4 linked regions of the Homo sapiens genome follow. The protein of the gene in region 4 interacts with the protein of the main gene of each other region in a biochemical or structural test. Each region holds a gene or a part of one and is shown on either strand. Other genes may lie near its edges.

Region 1 (5,189 bases), on a different chromosome or scaffold from region 4:
ATTAATATATTTCCTTTCTGGATTTCCATTTAAAATATATTTAAAGAATCATAAAAATTAAACACAAGCAACATCCTTTTATATTCTGCACAGTTCTTAGCAGAATTATAGATTCAAAAAAGACACACAGAATAGGCCACAATACATGTGCCAATTTTTGTTCTCAATCTTAAAATTACATAGTATAATTATTATGGTTATCTGAAAACAATCACGTTGTGCACATGTACCCTAAAACTTAAAGTATAATAATAATAATAATAGTAATAATAATAATAATAAATAAAATAAAATAAGTATCTGCTCTTTTATGAGGAAATTGTTTTTAATTGTAGTAGTTATTTTTCAGTCTGATCTGAATCTAGATGAGTTTTTTATGTTATATAGAAGATCATTTTATATATTTTTATATAGGGTTACTATTACAGAAAAAAGTAAAAGTTTTACTGCTACTCTTTTAAGCTTTTTGTATTTGTTTAAACAGGTTTTTGGCATTTAATCGTCATCCTTAGTGGTAATTGTTAAAGTACCTTTATTTAGAAAATTGAGAATCAAATGACCTTCAAAAGATCATCAGTTTTTCCTGACTTTTTCAGGTTAGGTTCAGAGTTATCCACTGATGCTGTTGAATTCTAGGGATATAAGTTTGTGAATAGAATATGTAAAACTATTGCACTCCTTCCATTATGTTACCTTCCTGTGTAAGTAGTAACAGCTTGTTTTTTCAACGGTCATACTTCATTCTTCTAAACAGCTATGAACATAGAAACAAAATCTTTTGAGGTGTCTCAAAATAGATATAGTCTACATTGGAAAGGCCTTTCTCAGTCTGCTTATTCTATATTTTATAAAAGTCTGGAAAGGTATAGCCTTGTGTTTTTCTTTCCCAAGTTTTCTTTTTAAAAGTTATTTTATTTCTCTGAGAATCTTCCATAACAACCAAGTTACATAGTTTAGATTGAAGCATCCAGTTTGAAAGGCAGCAGGTAAACTCTGACAGATTAAAGGTGACAGACTGAAGGAGGAGATAGGAAAAAATAAAAGCAAGTAAAAGAGGAAAACATCCAGCATTTGGAGATGTAATCTTCTCAGTCAGTCCTGAAGACATCATTAACTCAGTGGTCAAGAAAAATATTTTTCATTCATACTAATCAGAAATACAGACATGAAAATACATTGGAAATATTAACTATTACTTTCAGTTTTGGTATTTAAAATTGATATTCTAGTGAATGAAAGTTTCATATTACATGTAACAGAAATTTGGATTAAATCAGTAATACATGTAATACACAACTAGTATACTTAGCATAGCACCTAGCTCAATAAATGTTAGCAGCTATTACTGTTTTTGTTATCAACATCTTTCCCCCAGTTAGTCAGTTTACCATCACCTAAAATGTCTTTAGTTCTTTGCATACTTATTTAATTTTTTAAATATGTATTATATGACCTTTGTGTATTAAATTGATTTGTCTGTGGTCATAGAGAACTATTTTGTTCTGGTTATTACCATGAAAAAAAAAAAGCACCAATTGCTGGTACAATACAACTGAAGATAGCAAGTGTTAATAGGCTGGACTACTATAATTCTAGAGCTGAGGATTTTGTGTACATATATATATTTAAAACTTACACATATGTTTTTATGTATATTTAAGACTTCGTTTTTTTTTAAACAGCAGTTTTAGACTGACAGCAAAATTGAGAGGGACAGAGATAACCCATGTAGCCCTTGCCCCCACAAATGAAAGAATTAAAAATGCATCAGTAGCTTTATTTTGGCTTTTTTAAAAAGATGTAATTCACATAGCATAAAATTCATGCTTTTATACAATTCAGTGTCAGTATATTTGCAAATCCTGATACTTGAAAAAAATTAATTGTGCATATTAAGGTATATAACAATTATGGGATATAGATGGTAAAAAGTTTACTACAGTAAAGCAAATTAACATGTCCATTATCTTACATACTTTTTTTGTTTCTGTGGCAAGAGCAGCTACAATTTACTCATTTAGCATGAATACCATATATAGTACAATTTTATTACCTATTGTCCTCATGTGGTACATTAGATCTCTAGACTTGTTCATCTTGTTACATACCTACCTCTTCCCATTTCCTCTCACCCCACCCCTAGTAACCATTGTTTTTAAGTTCTTTATCTCTGTGAGAGATTCCACTTACAAATGATGTCAGGTACTATTTTTCTTTTTGTGTCTGGCTTACCATGTAGCATAATGTCCTCCAGGCCCATTCATATTGTGGCAAATGGCAAGATCTCCTTTTTAAAGGCTGAATAATACTCCATCATACATATTTACCACAGTTTCTTTATCCATTCATTTGTCAATGAACAGGTAGATTGTTTCCATACCTGGCTATTGCAAATAATGCTGCAATGAACATGGGAGTGAAGCTACCTTTACCAGGTGGTGATTTCATTTCCTTTGGCTATATGCCAAGAGGGATTGCTAGGCTGTATGGTAGTTCTATTTTTAATTTGTTTATAAACCTCCATACTGTTTTCCATATTGACTGTACCAGCCTACATCTGCACCAGCAGTATATAAGAATTCCCTTTTCTGGCACCCATGCTAACCTTTATTATTTTTTGACTTTTTTAGAATAGCCATTCTAACAGGTGTGAGGTGTTATCTCTTAGTGGTTCTGATTTACATTTCCCTGATGATTAAAGCCTGTACTATTAAGGAAACATATTTTTCTTAAGTATTTTTTTTTCTTAGCTGTATGTAATCTTTAGTTTTGCCCATGTGATGACTACTTCCTATCTTCCTCTTGCATTCTTTTACATTTTTATTCTCTTTGATTCTGGTCTAATGTCATATCTCTTTTGGAAAGGGATTCTTGATTCCTCATATACATTTAGTTGCCTTCTCTGCCCTGGGCTCCCACAGTGCTTTGTTTATTCCTTTATTATATTGCTTATCACATTTATATTGTAATTGTCTTTTTTTTTTTTTTTTTTTTGAGACAGAGCCTGGTTCTGTTGCCCAGGCTGGAGTGCAGTGGCACAATTTTGGCTCACTGCAACATCTGCCTCCCAGGTGCAAGTGATTCTCATGTCTCAGCCTTTCAAGTAGCTGGGATTACAGCTGTGCTCCAACACTCCCGGCTCATCTTTGTATTTTCAGTAGAGACGGGGTTTCACCATGTTGGCCAGGCTGGTCTCAAAACTCCTGGCCTCAAGTGATCTGCCTGCCTCAGCCTCCCAAAGTGCTGGGATTACAGGCATGAGCCACCGCGCCTGGCCATATATTGTGATTATTTCTTTAATTGTCTTCCCTTTCAGACTGTTTATCTGAAAAACAAGATTTTGTTTCAGTCTCTGGCCTAAGACTGAGACTGTTCTTGCTTTTTCACTATCCTCAGGACCTAAACATGCTTTTTGGTACATAGTTTTTGATTATTGCCACGAATAGTTGCTGCTGTCCCTAAGCCTTAAACATAAACCGAGAGCTTGATACACTATATTGAGTGGTGAATATTAAAATAGTTTGCTTTTTGTAAGCTGGGAATCATACCATTTTAGTGTTGGAAGGTACCTGAAATATTATCTAGACCAGTCTTTCCCCATTTCTCACACACACACACACACACACACACACACACACACACACTCCCTCTCTCTCTCTCTCTCTCTCTCTCTCTCTCTCTCTCTCACATGTTCACATGAAGCAAATTGAAATCTGTAAAGGTTGAATGACAGTAGTGAATTTAGGACTAAAAATTCATGTTTACTCATCTTTTCCTGTACCATTCTATTTTCTCTGATACCTTATAATCTATTCTGAGGATTTACAATGCAAATTCATTTATTTCCTGAAGTTTAGGGAAAAAACCCTGAAAATGTTAGTTTAATTTGTATTATTATCTTTTTACTTTTAACTATAAGTAAGGCACCATTGCCAACCAGAAAACAGGTTGAGCATCCCAAATCTGAAAATCAAAAATCCTAAATGTTCTAAAATCTAAAACTTTTTTGAGCACTAATGTGAAGCTCAAATGAAATGCTCATTGGAGCATCAGATATCAGATCTTCAGATTTGGGGTGCTGAACCAGTAAGTATTTTAAAAATCTGAAATACAAAACACTTCTGGTCCCATGTATTTTAGATAGGGGACGCTCGTACTGGAAAAGAAATTTTAAATTTGTTTAAAAAGTGACAATATATTTCTGTTTTACAGACCTCTGTGAGTGAAAGCCTTCAGAGGGAAGCTGCTAAGAAGCAGGCCATGAAACAGGTAAGGTAGAAGACTGGGATAAGTGCATTCAGTGAAGCATTCCGGCTCATTTTTAAGCATCAGTTTTGGTATCTAGGTGCTGAGACTAAAACAGAATAGATTTAAGGAAAAACACAATGAAGAATTAGCTCCTTATTGCTGTGCTATAGATTAAACCAGTTCTGCTTGTAGATGACTCATTAGTCTAATAATGGATTGTTTGGCCTGTTGTTATTATTAAATTCTTGCTAGTGAGCTTACTTGCAGGGAAAAAAAAAACCTTTTCACAACCAAAATGGTTTCACAAACTTATAATTATTTGAAACTCATCTGCCCAGAAAGAAGAATATCAGAGATAGATACAAATATATAGATATATAGATATATAGATTTTTTTTTTTTTTGAGATTGAGTCTTGCTCTGTTGCCCAGGCTGGAGTGCCGTGGTGCACTCTCGGCTCACTGCAGTCTCCATCTCCTGGGTTCAGGCAATTCTCCTGCTTCAGCCTCCCGAGTAGCTGGGACTAAAGGCGCATGCCACCATGCCCAGCTAATTTTTATATTTTTAGTAGAGACGGGGTTTCACCGTGTTGGTCAGGCTGGTCTGGAACCCGTGACCTCAGGTGATCCGCCAACCTCAGCCTCCTGAAGTGCTGGGATTACAGGCGTGAGCCACCGTGCGCGGCCTGATAATTTTTAAAAGACGTGCTTGTTTCCAAGTGCTTTTTACATACATTTATCTTTTACAGTTCTCACAAACTTGCCCATAGTACTGATTAAGAAATCTGAAACTCAAAAAGGATAAAGTGCTCCTTAAGATCATACTATTAATTATCGAACTAGGCCTGAAGGTTTACTAATTTTTCTGCTATTGTAGACTAGTATATCTTAGATTTTCTGCTATAGAATGTAATGAAATTAAACAATAGCGAGGTGCCTTTG
Region 2 (5,189 bases), on a different chromosome or scaffold from region 4:
GCCTTTTCATTTATAACAGGCCCTCAAAGTTTGTGACAGGAATTTAACAAGAATCCCCAAAAACTGTGAGTATTGCCTTCTAAGCTATAAGCATTTTTCTCAAAATACTGATTAATATTTTAACAGTGGTATAACTGTTTATTGTGATAAAATATATATAACATGAAATTTGCCATTTTAACCATTTTAAGTGTACAATTTAGTGGCATTAATTACATTCACAATATTGCGCAACCATCACCATTATTTCCAAAACTTTCACCACCTCAAAAAGAAACTGTATTCATTAAGAAATAACTCCCCATTCTCCCCTCCCCTCAGTCCCTGAAAACCTCTAATCTACTGTCTGTCCTTATGAGTTTGCCTATTCTAGGTATTTCATGTAAGTGGAATCATACGCTATTTGTCTTTTTGGTTCTAGTTTATTTCACTTAGTATAACCTTTTTTTTTGAGATGGAGCCTCGCTTTGTTGCCCAGGCTGGAGTGCAGTGGTGCGATCTCTGCTCACAGCAAGCTCCGCCTCCTGGGTTCACACCATTCTCCTGCCTCAGCCTCCTGAGTAGCTGGGACTACAGGTGCCCGCCACCATGCCCGGCTAATTTTTTTGTATTTTTAGTAGAGACGGGGTTTCACTGTGTTCGCCACGATGGTGTCGATCTCCTGACCTCGTGATCCGCCTGCCTCAGCCTCCCAAAGTGCTGGGATTACAAGCGTAATCCACTGCGCCCAGCCCACTTAGTATAACATTAAGGTTCAACCATGTTGTATCCATGCATCACAACTTCATTCCTTTTTATAGATGAATATTCCAGTTTATAGATTAACCAAATTTTGTTTATCCACTCATCTGTTGACAGACACTTGGGTTTTTTCCACTTTTTGGCTACTATGAATAATGCTATGAATACTGACATACAGGTTATCTGTTTGAGCCTCTGTTTTTAATTATTCAGGGTACATAGATAGCAGTAAAATTACTGGGTCATACGGTAATTCTGTTTAGCTTTCTGAGGAATAACAATAGTACAGTTTTACAATCCAGATATAGTCTTTTGGTAAACACAACCGCCACAAGACTTCCTGCTCATTTGAAAGGCAATTCATCTCCAGATAGGGTTTCTTTCCTCTCTAATAGGAAAGGCCCCAGTGATGATCTAATTCCCAACAGCCTGACCCTAGTATGGGTGCTGTTTTGATCGTGCTGAAACCCCAGTCTCCTGGTTGTCACAATTTTTCAACACTGCCTTTACATGCATAAAGGTATACACACTGCAATGGTGAAACTAAACATCATTCAGATGTTTAAGTCACACTTCTATCCTTAACGCATTTAGTAACATCAGATAAATGAAAGATGCTAAAAGGAAGAATACTTTTTAGCACATAAGATACAGGGTTTTATAAAGGATGACTTCTGCTGAACCTATTTCTTATACCCAAACAACCATTTAAAACATGCTGAACCTGGACGAGGTATGTAACACTCCACTGTTGCAAGAAAAGGATCTCTTTCCATTGTGAACCATGATGAGCAGCCTGGGACTTCTGAACTGACATCTCATTACCATTACCACCAATTCGAGGAGGTATTGGAATGCCAGAAAAACACAATGTAAATTCACAGAAACTACGTGGAAGTATACAAAGTGCTAACTTGGAGCATCTGTGTGCAAGGAGCAGGATCAGAAGAGGTCATCAGGACTATCTTTTGCCTTTTACTCCACAAACTTCTGTATTTGAATTTTTCAAAAACATGCATTCTTGTATAATATAATGGCTTAAAACTATTTAAAATATAGGCAGTGTTAGGGAAAAAAAAGCTATCAAAAGAAGGCTAAATGGAAATTCTGTCACATACAGAAAAACTAGTATCAGGGCCAGGCACCATGGCTCACGCCTGTAATCCCAGCACTCTGGAAGGGCAAAGTGGGTGGACGGCTTGAGGCCAGGAGTTTAAGATCAGCCTGGCCAATAGGTAAAACCTGGTCTCTACAAAAAAATACAAAAAATTAACCGAGTGTAGTGTCGAACGCCTGTAGTTCCTGCTACTTGGGGGCCTGAAGCAGGAGGACAGCTTAAGCCCAGGAGGTCAAGGCTGCAGTGAGCACCACTGCACTCCAGCCTGGGTGACAAAATGAGACCCTGTCTCAAAAAAAAAGTGAGAAAGAAAGAAATGTATTTTTATTATTCTCACCCATGCTTGAAGTGTTTAATGACTTTTCAGACATTTTATCCTAAAATAGCACCCCATCTGAATTTCTAGGTTAAGTCACTGAGACATTTACTCATGAAACAAATATATCCATTAAATAAAATCTGAAGTTTAAAGGACTTAGGCAAAATATGCCATTTAGTCTGTATAGACATACTGTCTACAGATATTCGTGTCTACAGGCTAGTTATAACTAGTCAATTTAGCAAAGTTTGAGCCCTGGGCTATAAATAACAGCTGCAAAACTGACTCTGGTGGCCCAGAGTTCATCAGCTATCTAAAAGGCATAATTTTACAATCTAAGATCTGGCACGCTTTAGGGAATCATTACAAAGTTAACATATTTTTTTCCCTAAAAGAATAGAGCTAAATGATATGGGAATAAAAGCCTAACCAAAATGAAGAGTGAGTTGGGAAACTATTTTGTGTGTGTGTGTATGCATATATATACACACACACACAAATCACAGATACTAAAATTAAGAATTTGATTTCTATGGCAACATAAAGCAGTTTGAAAATACTTACTTAAAATGACTTTGGACCAGGTCATTGAACACAATCTGTACTGTGTTCTAAAAAATATCCACCCAACATAATATACAACATTAAGAATTTAATTTTATGTTTTCATACATTATAACATATTGAGCAATTGCATTTCACATAAGTTTTGATGCTCAGTAACTTCAAATATTTTTGCCAAGTGCCAAAATTAGTGAACACAAACAGTGCACCTTCCTTCAAGAGGAGCAATTCTACTGATTTGCAATAATCAACTTTTTTTTTTGAGACAGGGTCTCACTCTGTCGCCCAGGCTGGAGTGCATCACCATGCCCGGCTAATTTTTGTATTTACTGAGAAGTTACTATGTGCCAAGTGCCATATTTTAATAACGTGTTTAAAACTACACACTGAATGCTGACTGAAGAAAGGAAGTATGGCAAAGGGTAAAAATATAAGACAGACTAATTGAAAACCAATTATTTAACTCATTCAAATCTCATGCTTTCATGCTGAGGGTAATTTTAAACATGTACGCACTTAATATATCACTTAATTCATAGATTTTCATTGGACGCTGACTTCAAAAAGTATCCCCAAGGCCAGGTGCAGTGGCTCACGCCCGTAACCCCAGCACTTTGGGAGGCCAAGGCGGGCAGATCACAAGGTCAGGAGTTCAAGACCTGCCTGGCCAACATGGTGAAACCCCATCTCTACCCAAAATACAAAAATTAGCTGGGCATGGTGGCACGTGCCTATAATCCCAGCTACTCAGGAGGCAGGAGAATTGCTTGAACCAGGACCCGGGAGGTGGAGGTTGCAATGAGCCGAAATCATGCCACTGCACTCCAGCCTGGGCTACAGAGCAAGACTCCGTCTCAAAAAGAAAATAAATAAATAAATAAATAAATAATCCATCTTTATCTCCAATAAAGTACATTAAAATACTAAATAATTAAATTCCAAAAGGTAACAGCACAAAACGTAAAACCGAACTCTTTTAAGAGAGCTGAATATTGGGACTACTATATAACATTAAGACAGCACCATTAGCCAACCAAAAGTAAAAATTTTAATTCACATTACTCAAACGGCCCCACTGGAAAATATCTTCAGAAAATAAAGTCATCTTTATTGTTAAAAGACAATGTAATATACATTCTCTTGCAAAATGAAGATGCCTCGTATTTTCTCTCAAATCAGAGATTTTTCTTAAAATTTAGTATTTTGAGCTTTGACTCCGTAACACCAATCACCCAACAGCCACCCAGTTTGGTGCATCCCCTGACCACAGGTAATTCCCAAACGTTTCACCTTGAAGGGGTAATTGGGAGGGTTTCCCAAAGATAAAAAAGTTCCACATGCCTCAGGAGCATAAATCTTTCACACATAAACTCAGTTAAAACGATGTGAAACTGAAGTGTACTTACACTGTTTTTTTTTTTTAAATGCTTAATCCCATGAAAATCTTCAAATGGTTTACAATTTTAGATTTGACTGTGCTTATTCACAAGAAAGCCATTATATGTTTTAATCAATGTTATTAATAACACACACATAGGAGACACACAATACCAAGCAGGAGCAATAACTAGACAGCACAGAACCACCTTGGGGAATGTACATGGATTCCACACAAACAACCAAGGGAAGCTACAGGCTTCCACGTGAACCACCACCATCAAAATAATGAGTTAGGCCTAAGTCTTATGGTTTTTCCACTTCTCAACCATCTTGAGAGATTATTAGCCAGGAAAGAATTCCCCAGAATGATTAAGTGTTCCAATTATAAACTATAGTTTAAGAGCATTTCAAACTCAAAATGACTTTCCTTACAAAACAGGACAAAGTTTCACGGAAGAGCATCCCACACCTAATCAACATTAAGAATGAATGTAACCAAAACGGCAATAGTTTTGTATTTAATCCACTAATTAGTTTCCAAAGTTCACTGTTACTAAACAAAATACTTCATTTAGCTTTTCAACCTATTCCCACACACTCATCTTAAAAATTGTGTATAGCCGCTGAATACTTTGTCAGTAACTTCTACTCCTACCAATAAGTTTAGAGTATTTCTGAAATCTCACATCCCTTTCCAACGCCGATCTTGAGAACTAGGTTAAATGTTATACTTAATTTTTAAAGTATGGGAGTTACAGGACCTCCCTTAAATAAATGGTTCTATTCTAATACATAGTTGTAAGTTACCCTCACTTCATTGTTGATCTAGTAAAGTCATCAAGTCTTCCACCTTGACTCAACAGTAGCAAAATGGCTTCTCTAAATAAAGCTGTGATCAACAAACCCTTAGAAAGCTGGTTTCAATTTGTTTTGAAACTGAAACACACATATGTATACAGTCTGAATAAAGCAAGTGAAAAAAACACCCCATGAAAGTTTAACTCTACAATTTAAAAGAAAACCTTTATCAAAGCCAGAAATTGTTTCCTGAATTGCTCTGCCAAAAGT
Region 3 (5,189 bases), on a different chromosome or scaffold from region 4:
AACTCCGTCTCAAAAAAAAAGGAGGTTTAATTGGCTCACAGTTCTGTGGGCTATACAGAAAGCATGGCAGCATCTGCTTCTGCGGAGTCCTCGGGAGCTTTTACTCATGGCAGAAGGCAAAGGGGGAGCCACCTGTCTCACATGGCAGTAGCAGGACCAAGAGAGAGATGGGGGAGGTGCCACACACTGTTAAACAGCCAGATCTCATGAGAACTCTATCACAAGAACAGCACCAAAGGGGTCGTGCTAAACCATTCATGAAGGATACACCCCCATAATCCAGTCGCCTCCCACCAGGCCCCACCTCCAACGTTGGGGATTACAGTTGAACATGAGATTTGTGTGGGGACACAGATCCAAACCATATCAGTATATTAGAAACCAAAATGAATTCTTCATGAAATCAAGAAGCTAAGTAGTGTACTAAAAATCTTTTCACAAGGTCCAGATAGCCAGTACTCTCCTTTCCTGGAAAGAAAGAAAAGCCCTTTCTTTAAAACCTGTCCTTTAAAGTTGACTTATTAGAATATTTAGAAGAATAAGTTAAAGGAACATTCAAAAATTTCTAACTTCCCTGTTGTCATTTCCAGGAAATACATGAAGTCTTTCCTAATTGATGTTAGAATGTTCTATGCTTGAAGAGGGCTTCAGGTGATGACACCTGACAATAGGAAAATGTTTTTGGAATGCCAGCTGCCAGAATTGTGGGTAACAGGAATGAAGAGTCAGAAAACATCTCTCCTGATTTTTTAAAAAAACTTTTCATATACTCTTAAGGCAAGGAAATAGCATTTTTGTTACCAAACTGAATAGGGCATGCCAACTATTTCTTTACTTCTCAGAAGCCCTTGATCTCTATAGGATAGATTTGGTAGGAATATGAGCGAATCCTTTCCCTGCTGAATTTATGTGTTGGGAGTAAAATGGGCTGAGAGTTATTATCTCTTGGTACAGAACACCTATTAGAGAAAAGAAAGATGGCTGAGCTCTATTAGCATTAGTATAGAAGGATTTAAATTTATTTTGTCAGAGGCTACTGAACTTAATGTAATCAGTGACTTTATGCCCCCTTTGCATTCAGTAAGGAATGCATAAGTTAATGATAGATATGGCCGGGTGTGGTAGTTCACGCCTGTAATCCCAGCACTTCGGGAGGCCGAGGCAGGTGGATCACTTGAGCCTAGGAGATCAAGACTAGCCTGGCCAACATGGCAAAACCCAACCTCTACAAAAAATACAAAGAAAATTAGCTACACATGGTGGCACTCACCTGTAGTCTTACCTGGAGAGTGAGGTGGGAGGATGACTTGAGCCCAGGAGGTTTAGGCTGCAATGAGCCAAGATCATGCCACTGCACTCCAGCCTGGGCGACAGAGTGAGACCCTGTCTCTAAATAAATACATACATAAATAAATAAATATTTTAAAACATAAGTTAATGACAGATTTGAACAAAGGAAATTACACTATTGAGATTTGTCTGCTACATCCCAGGTTGTCACCGAGGAAATGGCTTAGATGAGATTCTAAATTGTCACTGAAGAGAATTTGAGACATTCATAGAAGTATGTTGTATTCTCTGTAATGAGTGTATGACCATCCCCATTTAGGGGCAAGTGTTTGCATTTATGTTCTTGATTTAGACTGAATTGTTTTCAACTGAAAATTAAACAAAACAATTGTCTGAATGTGGTGCCTGCCACTGGAAAACAGTGATTGTTGGATTTTATGGTTGTCGTTTTTGCTAAGAATATTCAGTAGTGTGGCTGTCTTTTTTTTTTTTCTTTTTGAGGCAGGGTCTCACTCTGTCACCCAGATTGGAGTGCAGTGGTGTGAACACAGCTCAATACAGCCTTAACCTCTTGGGCGTAAGTGATCCTCCCACCTCAGCCTCCTGAGTAGCTGGGACCATAGGAGTGTGCCACCACATCCAGCTAATATTTTTATTTTTTGTAGAGACAGAATCTCACTCTGTTGCCTAGGCTGGTCTCAGACTCTTGGCCTGAAGCGATCCTTCTGCTGTGGCCTCCCAAAGTGCTGTGATTACAGGAGTGAGCCATCGCACTTGGAATTTTGAAAGCCATTTATCCTTGAATATGGGCTTCTAAAAAATTGAACTTTATGGGATCTGAAAAATGTTCTTGGTCTAGAATTTAGACAAAGTTCTAATTCTATTCTAATTACTAGCCAGGGACATTGAACACGTCACTGCACCTGTCTGGGCCAGCTCCCTTAGGAGTTCAGGCATAAAGACAGTCATATCAACTCTTCTTACATCATGGGATTGTTGTGAGACTTTGCACAAAGGGGCTTATATTTGTATCTGGGAGACCAAGATGTCATTTAACATTAATTTTCTGCTATTTGTTTTATTTTATTTTTTATTTTTTATTATAATTATTATTTTTTGGAGATGGATTTTTTGCTGTGTCGCCCAGGCTGGAGTGCAATGCTACGATCTCGGCTCACTGCAACCTCCACCTCCCAGGTTCAAGCGATTCTCCAGCCTCAGCCTCCTGAGTAGCTGGGACTACAGGCACACACCACCACGCCCAGCTAATTTTTGTATTTTTAGTAGAGATGGGGTTTTACCATGTTGGCCAGGATGGTCTCAATCTCTTGATCTCGTGATCCACCCCCCTCCGCCTCCCAAAGTGCTGGGATTACAGGCATGAGCCACTGCAGCCAGCCTTCATTTTTATTTTTTAATGACCTAACCTAAAGTCTGTTTAAGCTTCTTAAAATCCTTGTTGGTAGGCTGGGTGCAGTGGCTCACGCCTGTAATCCCAGCACTTTGGGAGGCCAAGGTGGGCGGATCACGAGGTCAGGAGATCGAGACCATCCTGGCTAACACGGTGAAACCCCCGTCTCTACTAAAAATACAAAAAATTAGCCGGGCGTGGTGGCGGGTGCCTGTAGTCCCAGCTACTCAGGAGGCTGAAGCAGGAGAATGGTGTGAACCTGAGAGGCGGAGCTTGCAGTGAGCCTAGACCGCGCCGCGCCACTGCACTCCAGTCTGGGCGACAGAGCCAGACTCCGTCTCAAAAAATAAAAAATAAAAAAAACTATTTGCCAGGTGTGGTGGCTCACGCTTGTAATCCCAGCACTTTGGGAGGCCGAGGCGGGTGAATCACGAGGTCAGGAGTTCCAGACCAGCCTGACCAACATGGCGAAACCCCATCTCTACTAAAAATACAAAAATTAGGCCAGGCATGGTGGTTCAAGCCTGTAATCCCAGGACTTTGGGAGGCCGAGGTGGGTGGATCACCTGAGGTCAGGAGTTCGAGACCAGCCTGGCCAACATGGTGAAACCCCAATTCTGCTAAAAAAAAAAGAAATAATAATAATAATAATAATCCTTGTTGGTTACTGTTAATATAAAGTTAAGTAAAACTTACAAAGCTGCTAGGCATTACAGTATAAATTCTTAGAATTTTCTCATGTTTTGGCGTCTCATGTTTCTCTCAACCCTTTGCTTTGATCCTCTGCTAATTTATATGATTTTTTTCATTCTAGTACTCTTGTCCATCTGTTCTCTGTTGTGTGATCCCAATCCAGATGATCCTTTAGTGCCTGAGATTGCTCGGATCTACAAAACAGATAGAGAAAAGTAAGTATGGCCTCAAGATGGAAAGTTATCTGTGGTGGGATGGAGATGTTTGTCACAAATCTTTCTTGTTTAAGGGCTGAATATCGGCCAGATATTTAAAGTGAAGTCCTAATATACTCTCCTGGGGCTAGAAAAGAGAAATATATGCATTGAGTATTATTATAAGTAGATGATGCCAGTCTTATCCCTGATTGTTTCACGTGACTCCTCTTGTCTACAAAAACTTTTTTTTTTGTTTGTTTTTTTTTGAGACAGGGTCTTACTCTGTCACCCAGGCTAGAGTGCAATGGTGCAGTCTTGGCTCACTGCAACCTCCGCCTCCTGGGTTCAAGTGATTCTCATGCCTCAGCCTCCCGAGTAGATGGGATTACAGGCGCAGGCCACCACGCCAGGTTCGTTTTTTTTGTAGTTTTAGTAGAGACTTTTACCATGTTGGCCAGGCTGGTTTCGAACTCCTGACCTCAAATGATCTGCCTGCCTAGGCCTCCCAAAGTGCTGGGATTACAGGTGTGAGCCACCACACCCATACAAAAACTTTCCTATGGTATATTTTTCAACAGCTTAATGCCTTATGCTTGGCTTTTGATATATAAAGCACTTTTCATCAAGTGCCCATTTGCCTGCCATAGGTATTTGTCAATTAATGGGAAAAGAGAATTGATTTCCTACCATTTGACATAATCTAAAGGAAGAAAGCAAATAAATGCCATTAGACGTGAAAGCCCCAAATTTCTTTTAAAAACAAAACTTGATGTAGAATTTGGGTATTTTAGAATTGTACTATGAATTATTGAACAGTGGTCAAGATATCAAAAGAGATAGTAGCTAAAAGTGTTCTAGTAGCATTTTTTCTTTTCTTTTTTTCTTTTGAGATGGAGTCTTGCTGTGTTGCCTGGGTTGGTCTCAAACTCCCTACCTCAGCCTCTGGAGTAGCTAGGATTATAAGCATGCCCACCATGCCCAGCACTAATAACATCTGTTTTATGTAGTATTCAGTGAAGTTATAAGAGGAACTAGATAGGAGAGGGTGGATAGTTCTTTTAGGGCCGGGCGCAGTGGCTCACGCCTGTAACCCCAGCACTTTGGGAGGCTGAGGTGGGCAGATCACAAGGTCAGGAGTTTGAGACCAGCCTGGCCAACGGGGTGAAACCCCGTCTCTACTAAAAATACAAAAATTAGCCGGGCATGGTGGCGGGCACCTGTAATCGCAGCTACTCGAGAGGCTGAGATAATTGCTTAAACTCAGGACGTTTAGGTTGCGGTGAGCTGAAATTGCACCACTGCACTTCAGCCTGGGCGACAGAGCAAGACTCACGTCTCCAACTTGAGTTCTAGTGGATTAGAGAGGCATAGATACGTTTTTGTTTTTAGTGGAGGTAACACTGGGAATGGGATATTCTAACAGTAGTTGGTTCTTGCTTTTTCCTATTTGTGAATTTATTGTCAAATTTTTTTGATTAGAGAACTGTTTTGTCCGATATTTAGAATTGTGGGTCTGAATGCTTACCAGAAGTCATTTCCCAAGTCATCATGGAGTAATGTTGAACACTGTTGAACAGAACTTTCCCAAACTGCACTGC
Region 4 (4,096 bases):
CACTCGTCCAAGTTCGGATGCGGGAACCTGGTCCCAGCTTGAGTTCCTGCCTTTCCCACCACAAATTATCAACTGGTTGATGTGTACACTAATTACATTTCAGGAGGACTTAATGCTATTTATGTTGTGCCTCTGCAGGCAAAGCCCTTAATAAATATTTTACATCCTTTCTAATGACAATGAATGGAATTAATCACTCAACAGGTATAGTATTACGACTCATGTTTACTTTTTAAAATGATTTAGACCGATTTTCAGATTTTATTTCGTTATGATTAAAGATGTCTCATGTACTTGGAAAAGTGAGCATTTTTTTTTTTTTTGTATTTCACTTTCATACCAGGCTTAATGTCAATGACATTTTTATTTTTGAAGTACTCTGACACCTCCACCCTCTACTTTATTAGAATTGGAAGGCAAATTTTTGTCCAAAAACCTACAGACAAGTACTTTGAGAGAATTTCCAATATAATATTAGACATAATGATAATTTTTTCCATACTCAGAATGAAAAACTGGATATTACGTTTTTGTTTTGGGGTTTTTTTGTACAAATTTAGCTAATAGCTACAGGCTGAGAGAATTGTAACATAGCATGACAAATTTTGTGTTGACTTGAAAGGAATCACACCATTATTCCTTAGAAGTAATTACATGTGTTCTAACACATTTGAGACAGGGTTGGACTCCCATTTCTCATCCGAGAAATTACTTAACCCTTCCTGGCGCTGTACAGTCATCTTTTATTCTATTTCCTCTTTGCTGTTTGTAGTAGAGACATTTTGAATGAAACTTGGCACTGCTTGATTCAAAACTGTGGAAACCAGATCTGTTTAGTCTCCTGTTTGTATGCGTTTGCTAATGGTAGCTAAATAACCAGTTTTTGTTGTAAATGCACCAATTCTGAAGGCACTTTATGTACTACATGGAGGTCATATCTGGTTTTGTTTTTATTTTTTTATCATGAACATTAAATGTGATGATGATTTCTTTTCCCTGCACACATCTTTCCGGTGCAATATCTATCAATTGTGAATCTGGCTGCTGGTGTATAAAAACCTGGATGTAAAGCTGAGCCTACAGACCTGTCCTCACCAACTGTTTTGTGATTTCTACTCAACTACAAAGATTTATTTAATGTACTCTTAATCTAACTGAGTTTTGTTACCAATGACCTGTTGCATGCTTCAATACCGTGTACTGCCTGAGTTGTGCCTCTTGTGTGCTAGATTAAAAGTGAGACAGAGACTTGACTTGATCCTCTGAGCTCAAGCTATTGAGCTGGTAGTGGCAGAGGACTGAGGGTACCTGCACAGTTTGATTCTTTTCCACGTGTAAGTCTCCATTGCAGAATTGTCGTGCTTTGAGAAAACACCTGAGGCAGTGTGGGAGTTGAACGACCCTGCTGTCCTTTTTAACCTGTGTTGTCCTAGACCCTGTCGGGGCAGTCAGGGGACACTAGAGATTTGATCTCATGCGAGTCATCAATAGGACAAAAAAGTTGTGGTTTGGGGAGGTCTGTTTGTTACATAAAAAGGACCTTTCGGTGTAAGAAATTGCCGTTTTTACCCTGCCCTGGCTGGCATGTGAGAAGCCATGGAAGGTTGTGGTTGTAAATGAGTTGTCTAAAGGGGTGCAGAGGCCTGAGGTTTCTAAAAGAAGGTAGATTTCTACAGAGCTGAGTGTTGGTTCCTTTTTCTTATTGGTTGAAAATTACCTGGTAGTGATCAGAAAACTTAGATGCTATGTAACTAAAAAAAAAAAAAAAAAAAAAAAAAAAAAAAAAAAAATTCCCGCTCATGAGTTTTGACTATTGGTGAGATGTTTTCCGCTACAGTTAACATGACAAATGTCTCAGTGGCAAAAATCCCCTTTTTGTAAGCCCCCATAGTCTAGAGGCAGTTTTCTTTTTAAGAATCATGCCAGAGCCTGAGTCGAGCAGTATGCTTTCTTGGTTTTTGAGAGTAATTGTGTAATTGTAGAGGGAGAAATCCAATTCTAACCTAAGAACTGGGATTCTTCTGTCATCTTGTAAACCGTATATTGAAAAAAACAGAATGTCACTAAATGCATATTAAGTCAAGTATTGGAAAGTATAAAAGAAAAATCATTCTGACAATTTCTAAGCCAGAAGCAAACAAGAATTACTGAAATCTACCCCATGAATACTTGGAAGGCAGTAATTGTGAGTGACACCTCAGTTCATCAACCCCTTAATAATATCAGCTTAATTTTAATGACAACTAAATATGCTGAAGTGAGGATTTAGTATTTTTTAAAAAAGCAAAACAAGGTTCAGTAGTCCTCAGCAATTCTCCAAGTTTCTCTCTTTGCCTAAAATGGTCATAGATCTTGATTTCTCTGAATCGTGATGACCACACCCAGTCATCTTCACAGCATAATTGCAGGTGGCAGTAAAGAGAGTGTGCTGGGTAAGGAGCAGTTGCTGGGTCATTCCTTGGGCCCCGACCTGCCCGGGGAGTAGCCCTGGGGGAGAGAGGGCAGTGTTGCCTATCCCAGAGGTCCCAGCAGTCACACTGCTCTGCAGGCCGGGCTCTCTTTATAGCCAGAGAAATCACCTTAATGCAGTCTCTTTAGTTGTCTGCTGAAGCTGTAGTTATTATGGGCCACTTACATGAGGCTGAGAAGTACGTGCCGGAGCTCACACACTGCCTGTTGCGGTTCTCTTAACATCAGTTATCACAGCTGCCTGTGGGTCCCGGGTATTTCCATTCCTGCCCCTTGTTGGCCCGAGGAAGGATGTGGAAAGAGCACCTGGTGGGATGAAGGTCCAACAGCCTGTGCCTCTCCACTGCTGGCCCTGGAGCCGGCAGCAGTGAGGCATTCATTGTCTGTGTTGCGGTGTATTCCCAGCTTCAGTGCTCTTTTCCTTTTTGCCTGAAATGTTTATGCTTCTCTGCAGCCAGTCCTCTAACAAATCTCAAGAACAAAGGTAAGACACTTGGTTTTTGTTTCCAGGACCCTTCAGAAGGTGACATCAGATATTCCCTAAATTCAGACAATGAGGGATACAGAGCGACTTGGCATGTATTATTTCTCCCATGTAAGGACAAAGGGACAGATTATTATTGTTATTTCTGAGACAGAGTCTTGCTCTGTAGCTCAGGCTGGAGTGCAGTGGCTCAATCTCAGCTCACCACAACCTCTGCCTCCTGGCTTCAAGCGATTCTTCTGCCTCAGCCTCCCCGAATAGTTGGGATTACAGGCACCCACCACCACGCCTGGCTAATTTTTGTATTTTTAGTAGAGATGGTTTCACCATGCTGGCCAGGCTGGTCTTGAACTCCTGACCTCAGGTGATCCTCCCGCCTCAGCCTTCCAAAGTGCTGGGATTACAAGCATGAGCCACCGCACCCGGCCTCACAGTGACAGATTCTGAGAAACAGCATGCAAAACATTTGAACCATTTTCTACATCTCCCATTGTTGCATAGAGAGTGTGCACCGCTGCTATCTTGCCAGATCCACACTGGTCCTCCCGAAAGCCAGGTTCATACACAGCAACTTTTTAATTATTCTAACAGTTACCCATTAACAGTCGACTCCTGTATTTCTGAGAGTCTTGTACTCACCTCTGAAATTTAAAAACGTATAAAGAGAGCCTGGGTTAATCAGTTCTGCAGCCCCTACGTGACACTGTGCTAGTTCTCCTTCTTCTGTCTCCTCCTTACCCTGGCCCTGCACCCCTGTACTTAAGAGGGAGAGGTGGGAGGTGCTGTCTGGTATCATTTGCTGCCTCGCCAGTAGAGGGTGCCGCTGTGCAGGGTAACTGCCCGCCTGCTCCCTTCCTGACCTCCCCTGACCCCGAAGATCACTACCTCTGTCATTCAGGCATTGGGGTACATCCTGATAAGTCGTGTCAGAACTGCCAATTTCAGGACTGAGATGTGTTTTTAAAAAACAAATCCTTATAAACTCCACTTTGTACTTTAGATTTTAAAACTGGGGAAAAATGTGATATTCTTTGGACCACTTTTTTAATTTATATAAGCCTTAATGAACAGTGTCTATACATTTGCATACACACACCCCCACCCCAGAGTGTTCTCAGTATGTCAGAGAAAGTGCCACAGCAT

Evidence for each region. Proteins that work in one complex are often made in the same cells at the same time.
Region 1: the proteins of NEDD4L (region 4) and NSRP1 form a complex in vitro, tested with the Homo sapiens proteins (one large-scale study listed by BioGRID).
Region 2: the proteins of NEDD4L (region 4) and UBE2E1 form a complex in vitro, tested with the Homo sapiens proteins (2 studies listed by BioGRID).
Region 3: the proteins of NEDD4L (region 4) and UBE2D2 form a complex in vitro, tested with the Homo sapiens proteins (11 studies listed by BioGRID, with this or other methods).

Annotation. Positions count from the first base shown.
Region 1 is NC_000017.11:30,168,330-30,173,518, forward strand, and holds part of NSRP1 (nuclear speckle splicing regulatory protein 1), read left to right. Parts: intron 1-571; exon of another isoform or gene 572-596; intron 597-4,212; coding exon 4,213-4,269; intron 4,270-5,189. UniProt on the Homo sapiens protein: RNA-binding protein that mediates pre-mRNA alternative splicing regulation.
Region 2 is NC_000003.12:23,811,969-23,817,157, reverse strand, and holds part of UBE2E1 (ubiquitin-conjugating enzyme E2 E1), read right to left. Parts: intron 1-5,189. UniProt on the Homo sapiens protein: Accepts ubiquitin from the E1 complex and catalyzes its covalent attachment to other proteins. Catalyzes the covalent attachment of ISG15 to other proteins. Mediates the selective degradation of short-lived and abnormal proteins.
Region 3 is NC_000005.10:139,619,853-139,625,041, forward strand, and holds part of UBE2D2 (ubiquitin-conjugating enzyme E2 D2), read left to right. Parts: intron 1-3,515; coding exon 3,516-3,609; intron 3,610-5,189.
Region 4 is NC_000018.10:58,396,405-58,400,500, forward strand, and holds part of NEDD4L (E3 ubiquitin-protein ligase NEDD4-like), read left to right. Parts: 3' UTR 1-4,096. UniProt on the Homo sapiens protein: E3 ubiquitin-protein ligase that mediates the polyubiquitination of lysine and cysteine residues on target proteins and is thereby implicated in the regulation of various signaling pathways including autophagy, innate immunity or DNA repair.